2 separate regions of the Homo sapiens genome follow, and region 2 is linked to region 1. Evidence: fine-mapped expression QTL. A gene starts in region 1. The other region holds a variant in brackets. All regions are shown on one strand. Distances are between the middles of the regions. Region 1 holds the start of ZNF274 (zinc finger protein 274). Region 2 overlaps ZNF274 (zinc finger protein 274).

Evidence for each region. PIP is the estimated chance that this variant, and not a neighbour inherited with it, causes the effect. A credible set is the group of variants that fine-mapping cannot tell apart.
Region 2: its variant is the best candidate, but not a certain one, in a credible set for the expression of ZNF274 in thyroid (GTEx, PIP 0.72).

Annotation. Positions count from the first base shown.
Region 1 is chr19:58,180,591-58,185,958 of GRCh38, forward strand. It overlaps ZNF274 (zinc finger protein 274), which reads left to right and starts at 2,471. Exons shown (of 8, transcript NM_133502.3): 1 at 2,471-2,852; 2 at 3,331-3,408; 3 at 5,122-5,248. The coding sequence starts at 3,376. RefSeq lists enhancers at 2,082-2,795, 2,464-2,883, 2,796-3,507, 3,134-3,323.
Region 2 is chr19:58,206,670-58,212,037 of GRCh38, forward strand. ZNF274 (zinc finger protein 274) reads left to right here. Exons shown (of 8, transcript NM_133502.3): 5 at 51-533; 6 at 3,292-3,404; 7 at 4,891-5,017. Among named protein-coding and RNA genes, the nearest start is that of ZNF544, 20 kb to the right of the region's middle. The variant A/G (reference allele first, on the strand shown) is at 2,325.

The sequences.
Region 1 (5,368 bases):
TGGCAAATCCCCATCTCTACTAAAAATACAAAAATTAGCCGGGCATGGTGGCACGCCCGGCTACTCAGGAGGCTGAGGCAGGGAGAATCACTTGAACCCGGGAGGCAGAGGTTGCAGTTGAGCCGAAATCACGCCATTGCACTCCAGCCTGAGCGAAAGAGCGAGACTCTGTCTCAAAACAAAAAAAAAAAAACAAAACATCTTTGGTCAGGCATGGTGGCTCACGCCTGCAATCCCAGCACTTTGGGAGGCCAAGGCGGGAGGATTGCTTGAGTCCAGGAGTTCAAGACCAGCCCTGACAACACACTGAGACCTCATCTCTACACAAATATTTATTAAAAATTAGCCAGGTGTGGTGATGCACACCAGTAGTCAGTCCTAGCTACTTGGAAAGCTGAGATGGGAGGAACACTTGAGCCCAGGAGGTTGGGCCAGCAGTAAGCCATGACTGCAGCACTGCTCTCCAGCCTGGGCAACAGAACAAGACCCTGTCTCAAAAACAAATTCTTTTAATCAAAAATCAGGTTTTATCCTATACCACATAAATAGAAAGAAATCATTAGAAGAATTTCCACCTGCCTGGGCAACATAGTGAGGTTTCTGTCTCTACAAAAAAGTACAAAAGAGGCCAGGCGGGGTGGCTCATGCCTATAATCTCAGCACTTTGGGAGGCTGAGGTGGGCAGACTGCCTGAGGTCAGGAGTTCGAGACCAGGCTGGCTAACATGGAGAAACCCCGTCTCTACTACAAATACAAAAATTAGCCAGGCATGGTGGCACACACCTGTAGTCCAAGCTACTTGGGCAGCTGAGGCAGGAAAATCGCTTGAACCCAGGAAGCAGAGGTTGCAGTGAGCCGAGATTGTGCCACCTCACTCCAGCCTGGGCGACAGAGCAAGACTCTGTCTCCAAAAAAAAAAAAGCCAGGTGTGGTGGTGTGCACCTGTCCCAGCTATTTGAGAGGCTAAGGTGGGCGGATCACTTGGGCCCAGGAGGTGGAGGCTGCAGTAAGCTGTGATCGCACCAATGCATTCCAGTCGGGGTGACAGAGCAAGACCCTGTCTCAAGAAAAAAAAAAAGAAAGAAAAAAAAGAATTTCCAAGGGGGTTTGCTTCCTTGTGATTATGAAGGGCTAGACGTATCCTATTCAAATCCAGAACAAAACAAGACTATTAGTAAACATGACTACTTAACATAGCTCTGTCATACTAGCTAGGACTATACAATGTTAATTTTTTAAAGTTGAAATATGGAAAAAGAAGATATCAAATTACTTATTAATTGGGGATGGTGTTGTATCTATAATAGACACGAAAAATCCAATGAAATATTATTAGACTATAAGATATCTGCACAGTCTCTGAGTAAATACTCCTATGCCAAAATCAACACACTAACAGCAACAATTAAACAATGTGTAGCCTGAGGTTGGATCCTCCACAGTGACCAAAAAAACCAACAACCCGTGGAACAAGTTTAGCAGGCAGTGTACACGACCACCAGAGGGAGGCAGAGGGCTGCTGAGACCTGCCAGGAAATATCAAGAAAGAGGACACAGGGTCCTGAGCACTGAGAGAGATCATTAGGGCCCTCAGGTCCCAAGAAGACAAGACCATACTGGGACCTGGGACCTAAGGAAGATAAGAAAACACCAGATGTCGGTCCTTGAGGAAGCCAAGAGAATACCTCCTTGTCCTGAGCTCCCAAGGAAGATGAGAGCACCCTGGGCCCAAGGATGGGTGGCACACACCAGGTCCTGGACAGCTACAGACTTAGGTTTCCTCTCCCTAGACATGAGCACCTCAGCTTCCAGGAGCAAACTGGACCACAGGGGGACACTAGGCAGAGGATCCTGCTCCTCCTCCCCAATGCCTGGGGTACAGTTAGCCCTGATCATCTCTCCAGAACTAGGGTAGACGTTTGGCCTCATTCCCATCACACTTGTGGTCCACCTAGTCTTCCCTCCTTCCCCTTGCACACCCCTGACCTTCCTACTCCCTTCCTCTAATCCCCAGAACTAGGGTGGACGTTTGGCCACGTTCCCATCACACTTCCGGTCCTCCGAGTTTCCCTCCCCTCCCTGACCTTGAGTGGACACTTGGCCCTGTCCACCCTCACTTTCAGGCAGGACCCATCTCCCAGAAACATAAGTGCCGTCAGTCCCAACTCCTGCACACTTCCGGCTCTCCCAGTCCTCCCCTTCTTTCTCGACTTTGAAACTGGTGGAACTTCAGTACCTCTCCCCACTCCCCCCGCGACTTCCGTCTTCCAGTCCCCCTCCTTCCCCAAAAGTTGCGTGGACTCTAGCCCCGCCTCCTACATTCTCCCCGCCCTCCCTGTCCCCGCCCCTCCACCCAGATGGACGGCCAGTTAGGCCCGCCCCCTGCACTTCCGGCCCTACCCGCCCTTCCTCTTCCCAAGGGACGTCATAATTAATCCCGCCCCCACCGCCACCCAACCAAGCATCACCCATTCCAGCACTTCCGGCCTGACCCCTGTCCAGCGCCTTTCCTTTCTCCAGCTTCTGCTCTGCCCCAAGAGTGGTCGCCTTCGTGGCAGGGCACGACTCTCTCCCAGCTCGGGTCGCCGCCCACATTAGTGTGGGGCCCTGCGGCCTAGCGTCCCTCACCAGAGGCCTCCCCTTGCCTAGCTGGACCGCCGAGGGACATCGACGAGTATCCTCCTCCTGCTGTCCCCGGCTTCGCCTGCCGCCCCTAACCGGCCAGTCAAGATGGCCGCCGCTGGGTGAGGCAAGCTGGCGCGCCGCGGGGGCGTCTGGGAGTTGTAGTTCGGGACGGCGGGCTGACGCACTTCGCCGCCGGCCGACGGGCGCCATTGTGCGGCGCGCGCCGGGTGAGTGCCGCGCGAAACCTGCGTCCGTCGGGGGCTGCGCTGGGCGGGTCCAGAACCGTTAGTTGGGGGCGAGCGCGGCCTCTGCATTTTCCGCCGAGCTCGGGTACCCTGAGCCGGCCGTGCCTGCAGTCCTCCCGCCGCTCTGTGGGATGGGGTCGGTGACCCGGAACCCCGAGGGGAGACAGTGCTTTCGGGGCGCCGCGGTGGAGAGAACAGATCGCCTCCGGAAGCGTGGGGTCTGGGCCAGGGAGGCGATCCCCTCCGATGCGCGGGACAGAGGAGGCTCGGTGTCCTCTCGGGGAGGGGAAAACTGGTCCTATCCAGTCCTGTGGGAGTCCTATGACTCACTCTGGGCGTTTTCCAGTTTGGGTGGACTTGTCATTTCCCGCTGAGGGAGCCGTTCCTGGGCGGAGGCTGCGGTAGCTCCCCAGCGGACACCTTAAGCCTCTCCCTCCCCTCCCAACTTCGGTTTCCTCAGGACTCTGCCCACTTCCACCAGAGACACATTGAGAAGGAGGAAACTATGGCCTCCAGGCTTCCGACGGCCTGGTCCTGTGTGAGTAGAGGCTTCCTTCAGCTTTTGAGTCCGCTACTGCACCTGGGAGGATGCGGATGGTGGTGAGATACCACCTTCCCTGAGATACCCCCATCCTCCAGAGCACCTCGGGGAGGGGGTAGAGATTGGTTGGGCATGAGAGATCCTGCGTGATGGTGGAACCGCAGGTTGCTTGGTTTTCCAAGGGTGTAGTTAGAATAGAGACCAGATTGTAGGGGCTTCTGAAGGCCAGGTTAAGGCTCTTGCTTGTATCCTTTATATTGGGAAGAGTAATTGACAGGTCTTTTGTTTGTTTGTTTTTTGTTTTTTGAGATGGAGTCTCCCTCTGTCGCCCAGGCTGGAGTGCAGTGGCGCGATCTTGGCTCACTGCAACCTCCGCCTCCTGGGTTCAAGTGATTCTCCTGCCTCAGCCTCCCCGAGTAGCTGGGACTACAGGCGTGTGCCACCATACCCAGCTAATTTTTTTTTTATTTTTATTTTTTGTGTGTGTTTTTTGTGGAGACGGGGTTTCACCATGTTGGCCAGGCTGGTCTGGAACTCTTGACCTAAGGTGATCCGACCATCTCGGCCTCCCAAAGGTCTATGCAGGGATCAGGCTTATGTTTAGATTTCAGCAGATAAATTGGCATCAAGCAAGAGGTGACAGCAGCAGAGTTCAATAACAAGTAGAAAAGACAGGTGAGGATGGATCCCTGACAGGTGAAGGAGATAGAAAGAAGCATCAGGGCCCTGGGTAGGGGCTGACGGCTTGGGTGTGATGGTGCAGCTCAGAGAATTCCCTAGGAGGCATACGCACCACTCCCAAAGTCAGAATTTTCAAATGAATAAGAAATAGGGGGCCGGGCGCGGTGGCTCACGTCTGTAATCCCAGCACTTTGGGAGGCCGAGGCAGGTGGATCACGAGGTCAGGAGATTGAGACCATCCTGGCTAACATAGTGAAACCCCGTCTCTACTTAAAAAAATACAAAAAATTAGCCGGGCGTGGTGGCGGGCGCCTGTAGTCCCAGCTACTCGGGAGGCTGAGGCAGGAGAATGGCGTGAACCGGGGAGGCGGAGCTTGCAGTGAGCCGAGATGGCGCCACTGCACTCCAGCCTGGGCGACAGAGAGAGACTCCGTCTCAAAAAAAAAAGAAAAGAAAAATAGGGCCGGGTGCGGTGGCTCACATGTGTAATCCCAGCACTTTGGGAGGCCGAGGCAGGCAGATCACAAGGTCAGGAGTTCGAGACCAGCTTGACCAACATGGTGAAACCCCATCTCTACTAAAAATACAAAAATTAGCCGGGCATGGTGGTATGCGCCTGTAATCCCAGCTACTCAGGAGGCTGAGGCAGGAGAATCGCTTGAACCTGGGAGGTGGAGGCTGCAGTGAGCCAAGATTGCGCCACTGCACTCCACTAGGAGACAGAGTGAGACTCTGTCTCAAAACAATAAATAAATAAATTAAATAAATAAATAAATAAATAAAATGGACAGATTTTCATATGCTACAGAGATCTCATGTGTTGCTCTCCTTATTGTAACCTGAATAGAGTCAAGCTTGGGTTTGCTTGGGGTTTCAGACAAAGACAGGAACTCAGGATGAGACTCCCAAAATGCCCTTGGGTCATCTTGTAGACCATTCTGTGCTTTCACTGGCCTGGTCAGCCTCCCCTGTCTTTCTTTTGTCGTGGATGCGGATGGCCTGTGGCTGAACAAGAATCTGGATTTTTAGGAACCAGTGACCTTTGAAGATGTAACACTGGGTTTTACCCCGGAAGAGTGGGGACTGCTGGACCTCAAACAGAAGTCCCTGTACAGGGAAGTGATGCTGGAGAACTACAGGAACCTGGTCTCAGTGGGTAAGGCTGGCCTCCAGGTCAAGAAGGATCTGTGCTTTGTAGCACAAATGTAGCACCTCTGAAGTATGTGTCTGCTTGGGCTCACACTGCAGGGGCACCAGTAGGAAAAGGGCAGCTTTT
Region 2 (5,368 bases), 26 kb after region 1:
TCTTTTCATGTGCTTGTTCTCATTTGTCTTGCTCTGCTTTTGACTTACAGAGTATCCTGAGCTCCAGCTGGACCCTAAATTGGATCCTCTTCCTGCTGAGAGTCCCCTAATGAACATTGAGGTTGTTGAGGTCCTCACACTGAACCAGGAGGTGGCTGGTCCCCGGAATGCCCAGATCCAGGCCCTATATGCTGAAGATGGAAGCCTGAGTGCAGATGCCCCCAGTGAGCAGGTCCAACAGCAGGGCAAGCATCCAGGTGACCCTGAGGCCGCGCGCCAGAGGTTCCGGCAGTTCCGTTATAAGGACATGACAGGTCCCCGGGAGGCCCTGGACCAGCTCCGAGAGCTGTGTCACCAGTGGCTACAGCCTAAGGCACGCTCCAAGGAGCAGATCCTGGAGCTGCTGGTGCTGGAGCAGTTCCTAGGTGCACTGCCTGTGAAGCTCCGGACATGGGTGGAATCGCAGCACCCAGAGAACTGCCAAGAGGTGGTGGCCCTGGTAGAGGGTGTGACCTGGATGTCTGAGGAGGAAGGTAAGTAGAAGGGTGGGTAGAGGGACAGCTTAATGAGGGTGTCTTGGAGTACCCTGTGGGGGAGATAAGAACTCCAGGCTTCCTAGGAAGGTCATGGGAAGGATTGTGTCCGCTCCATACAGACCAAGGACATCCATGTTGCCCACGTGTTCCTGAGTCAGAGCCACTGAAACCCTTGCATTCTTTAGCCCTTCGTGGGCTTCTGATGGAAGCACACAGATGAAGTGCTTCATTTTTATCCCTCTGGCATCCCTGCTGCACCATAAGCCCTGTAGCACTTGATAAGATAGATGGGAATACTGAGCTCAGAGAGCCCGCAGTAGCAGGAGAGACAGGGATTTGACAAATGAGAATGCATAGAAAAATGCTGGGACTATGAGGAGCTCGAGGTGATGGTGAGGCTTATGAAGGTCTGCAGCTGACACCTGGTGTGGAGTGGAACTTGGCCAGGGTAAAGAAAGGGGGCAGGAAAGATGTGCCATGCAGAGGGGAGCACTGCCTGTAAGGGCCAAGATGGAAGGGATCACAGTAAATGCAAAACTCAGAAAAATCGGTTATGTTTGTGATGGAAGGGAGCAGAGGTTGGAGCTGGCACTGCCAGTGGGGACTTTAGTCCTAAAGCAAAGCAAAATGTTCTTCTAAAACAGTAGGGCTCGATCCCTGAGTTCCAGAAACTGGTGGCACCACTGGATTTGACCTTTAGAGATTTACCAGGCTGCATGTGTGGTGGATGGTGGACAGAGGATGGGGGCGAGGCTGGACACAGGCTACCCGCAGCTATTGCCATGCCCTCTGATGGGGTGGTGTCTTGGATAGGAGTGATGGTGATGTCTGACTGGGGAGAGACTACACGTGTGGAGTGTGTATTTGGGAATAAGACTGCAAGACTTGGTTTCTTCATCAGGCTGAGTTTCACAGAGCGTGCATGCTTCTGCATTGCTCACCTCCATTTTCCACATTTCACGGGTGCCCAGAAGATGTTTCTGATGTGAACGAATGATTGACTGGTTGATGTTTGTGATTGCAGGAAAGGGGAAGGTATCCTGCAGGGGGATGGTGGGATTCTAAGAGGCCAGGGCATCCTGGAGATCGGGTATCCGAGGCAGCAGGGCAGGCACTTGCATGAGTTGTGTCAGATGCACCAAGTCTGGGGTGCTGTACTTGGCAGAATAATTGCCCCAAAGGTGTCCATGTCCTGACTCCTGGACCCTGTGAATAAGTTGCCTCACATGACAAAGGGGACTTTGCAGAAACAATTAAGGATCTTGAGAGGGAGAGATGCACTGGATTATTTGAGTGGATCTAACATAACCACAGGGGCCCTTAGGAGAGGGAGGCTGGAGGGTCAGAGGAGATGTAATGATAGGAGCAGCTGATAGAGGAAGAAGCCATAAGCCAAATGTTTGGGGCAGCCTCTAGAAGCTGGAAAAGGCAAGGAATGGATTCTCCCTTGGAGCCTCCAAAAGGAACATAGCCATGCTGACACCTTCATTTTAGCCCAGTGAGGCACAAACCAGACTTCTCATCTCCAGAACCATAAGGTAATACATTTGCATTAATCTGAGCCGCTGGCATTGTGGCAATTCACTATAACAGCAATAGGAAACTAGTTAGTTAGGTGCCAAGGAGACAGTTGTGGGGTTAATGAGGTGAAAGTCAGTGAATTCACCCTGTGTTTAACCTCAGGGGTGAATAAAATAAATTAGTGCCACAGAAGACAATGGGAAGAGGCTTTCCAGAGAACCCTGAGAATCTCACATTATGTGATCAGTGTGTTAGTTGGGACGCTTG[A/G]GTGTGACTGCTGCAAAGCCTTGCACAGAATGGCTCAAGGGAGAAGGAGAATTTATTGGAAAAGTTCCAGGGTGCTCGAGCATCAGGCAGGGCTGGACCCAGGAGCTCCAATAGTGTCCTCCAGACTTGTCCTGTCCCTCATTCTTACCTCTTCTGCCCTCCACTGGCTTCATCATGGGCAGGCTGTCTCCCTGCATGGGATTTCTCTTTCCCAAATGTTCCAACTAAGGCCTTGTTGGCTCCAATCATCTGGCTATAGGCTGTGTTCATCCCAGATCTAATCACTGTGGCCAAGAGAAAGGGATGGTCCAGTGTGCCAGCCTAAGTCATCTTGTGGCCCACCTTGATGGTGGGGGTAGATTAGCATTGTGGAAGCCTGTGGACCATTTGGGGTCATGTGAGGAAGGTTAGAATGAAGGAGCCGTGGTTACAGGGGCCCTTGGGCCAGGTGGAGCTGTTGTTTTCTTAGGTGGAGGAGACTTGGTGACGTTCACCTCAAGATGGCTGCATTTCATGGGTCCAGGGAAAGTCTCACCTTCCATGAGGTGGGAGGAGAGAGGGAAGAAGGAAGAGGTGCCCAAATAGGCAGGGTGCAGGGCTTGGAGGCCGGAAACAGGGGCTTTGACTCTAAGGAGGGGGCGTCAGTCAGCTGCCTCACAGGAGGGGCTGGGGCCCTCAGCAGCCCCCGGAAAGGGAAGGAGTGGGACCAGAGTCTCAGCAGTGAGGACACTGGTGCCCTGTGACCCTTGGAGGGTGAGCCATCCCGGGCCCATCCAGGTGTGGGCACTCGGGCACGTGCTGTGAGGGGAGCAGAGCTGGTGGGAAGGGAGGACAGGAGCAGAGGCTGTCATGGAGCCACAGTACGATGCAGGGGTGCGGTGGCCCCATGGGTTGCAGAGAGGCCACCCTTGCCCTGCCTAAGGGTCCCCACACCTGCTGACCTCCTCTGGCTGGTGTCTCCTCCCAGTACTTCCTGCAGGACAACCTGCCGAGGGCACCACCTGCTGCCTCGAGGTCACTGCCCAGCAGGAGGAGAAGCAGGAGGATGCAGCCATCTGCCCAGTGACAGTGCTCCCTGAGGTAAGCGGGGAGTATCACCCTGTTTTGGTCACAGCATCTCCTGTGAGGCAGGCCCACCCCTGAGGCATCCACTCTGCCCTGGGCTTTCCTAAGACCTCCCACAGGCTGGGACATTCTGAGATTCTGAGCTCTTAGGTCTGTGCTGAAGCAATCTGAGTATGAAGAGCAGCCCTGCCCTCCAGCCACTGTGGCATCACTGGAGACAACGCATGGTGACCCGGGAGCTGAGAAAGCAGGAGGCAAGAGGGAAGGGACTAAGTGTTTACAGAGACTTGAGAGGTGGAACTACCACAGGCAGGCACATCTGTATCCAGGTCAGAACAAGAGAGCCCTCAACCTTCAGAAATGCATACTTAGGTATTTATCTTTGGTATCTGGGATTTGCTTCAGAATAACCCAGAGCTGGGGTGTGGGTGAAAAAGATTGGTCCTGATGCGCTGACCACTGGGGTAGTGGTATGTATGTGTCATTGGTCAGACCTGTTTGCACTGCAAATGGCTTATACTGGCTCAAGCGTAGAAGTCAATTTATTGGCTCTCATGTATTCTCTGGTAGGCTTCAGGCAAGGCTGCATCCAGGTGCTCCCAGGTGATGGGAAGAATCTCTGGCCAACCTGTTTCATGGCTCTGCTTTCTCCCCTTTCTTCTTCTTTTTTTTTGAGATGGAGTTTCACTCTTGTTGCCCAGGCTGGAGTGCAATGGCGCGATCTCAGCTCACTGCAACCTCTGCCTCCCAGGTTCAAGTGATTCTCCTGTCTCAGCCTCCTGAGTAGCTGGGATTACAGACAGCTGCCACTACACCCGGCTAATTTTTGGTATTTTTAATAGAGACGGGGTTTCACCATGTTGGCCAGGCTGGTCTCGAACTCCTGACCTCAGGTGATCCACCCGCCTTGGCCTCCCAATGTGCTGGGATTATAGGTGTGAGCCACTGCGCGTGGCCACTCCCCTTTCTTCTTAGGCAGATTCTGCCCCATGTAAGCAAAATGCCTCAGATCCTGGCAAAGCAGCGTTGGGGGTACCTCTTCTTCCCAAAGTCCTGGTCAGTTCCCCAGAAAGGACCAGTCATGGCTGTGCCAGGGTGACTGCCCTCCCCCAGGTCAGCCCTGTCGACAAAGGCAGGGGCTTGGTTGTCATTTCCACCAAGTGGGAAGACAGTATTAATAGATGGAGAACCCTCTGCAGTGGGAAGATTTCAGCAATGGGCAAGCTGGATAGAGCCGTGGTTAGGATGGAGTTGTTTGCTTGTTGCACTTGGAGCTCTTTATGAAGCAAGGGCTCTGCCTCCCAGCCTGAGACCCAGACCCTGGTTTGGACCCAGTAGAACTCTTGTGGGCCCTGGGTTGGTGTCTCTGAGCAAATCCCCAAAGCAGGAGAGTCCCTAGCACCGTGAGCTCTGTCAGAACCTCCCAGCTGGCCTTTCTTCTGCCCTCATTGACAACCCTCTGACCCTCTTGCTGAGCATAGACACATATGTGATGTTACAGGAGCCAGTGACCTTCCAGGATGTGGCTGTGGACTTCAGCCGGGAGGAGTGGGGGCTGCTGGGCCCGACACAGAGGACCGAGTACCGCGATGTGATGCTGGAGACCTTTGGGCACCTGGTCTCTGTGGGTAAGGCTGTGCCCCCTCTTCACCCACCTCAGGGCTGGTAGGCCACAGGAGCCCCAAGTCAGGGGTGTTCACCTTCTCTAGACTCCACACTGGGCATTCCCTCAAGGGGCCCTTGCTGCATCCAGGGCCTGTAAGTGGAACTGTAGACCTAGAGGGGTGAGGTCACTGGGTGGCCAGAAGCAGCCTTAGGTCCGGTGAAGGAGTGATTTGCTATCTATCTCCTGAGGGAGTATGAGAGAACAGGAACTCGAAGAGCTCGGAGGACACTCCCTGCCCTTCCTGTCCCTTGTTCACCAAGGTCAGTGCTCCCCTCCCTGCCGCTTCATTGCTTTTCAGTCTCTCTCCAGGTTG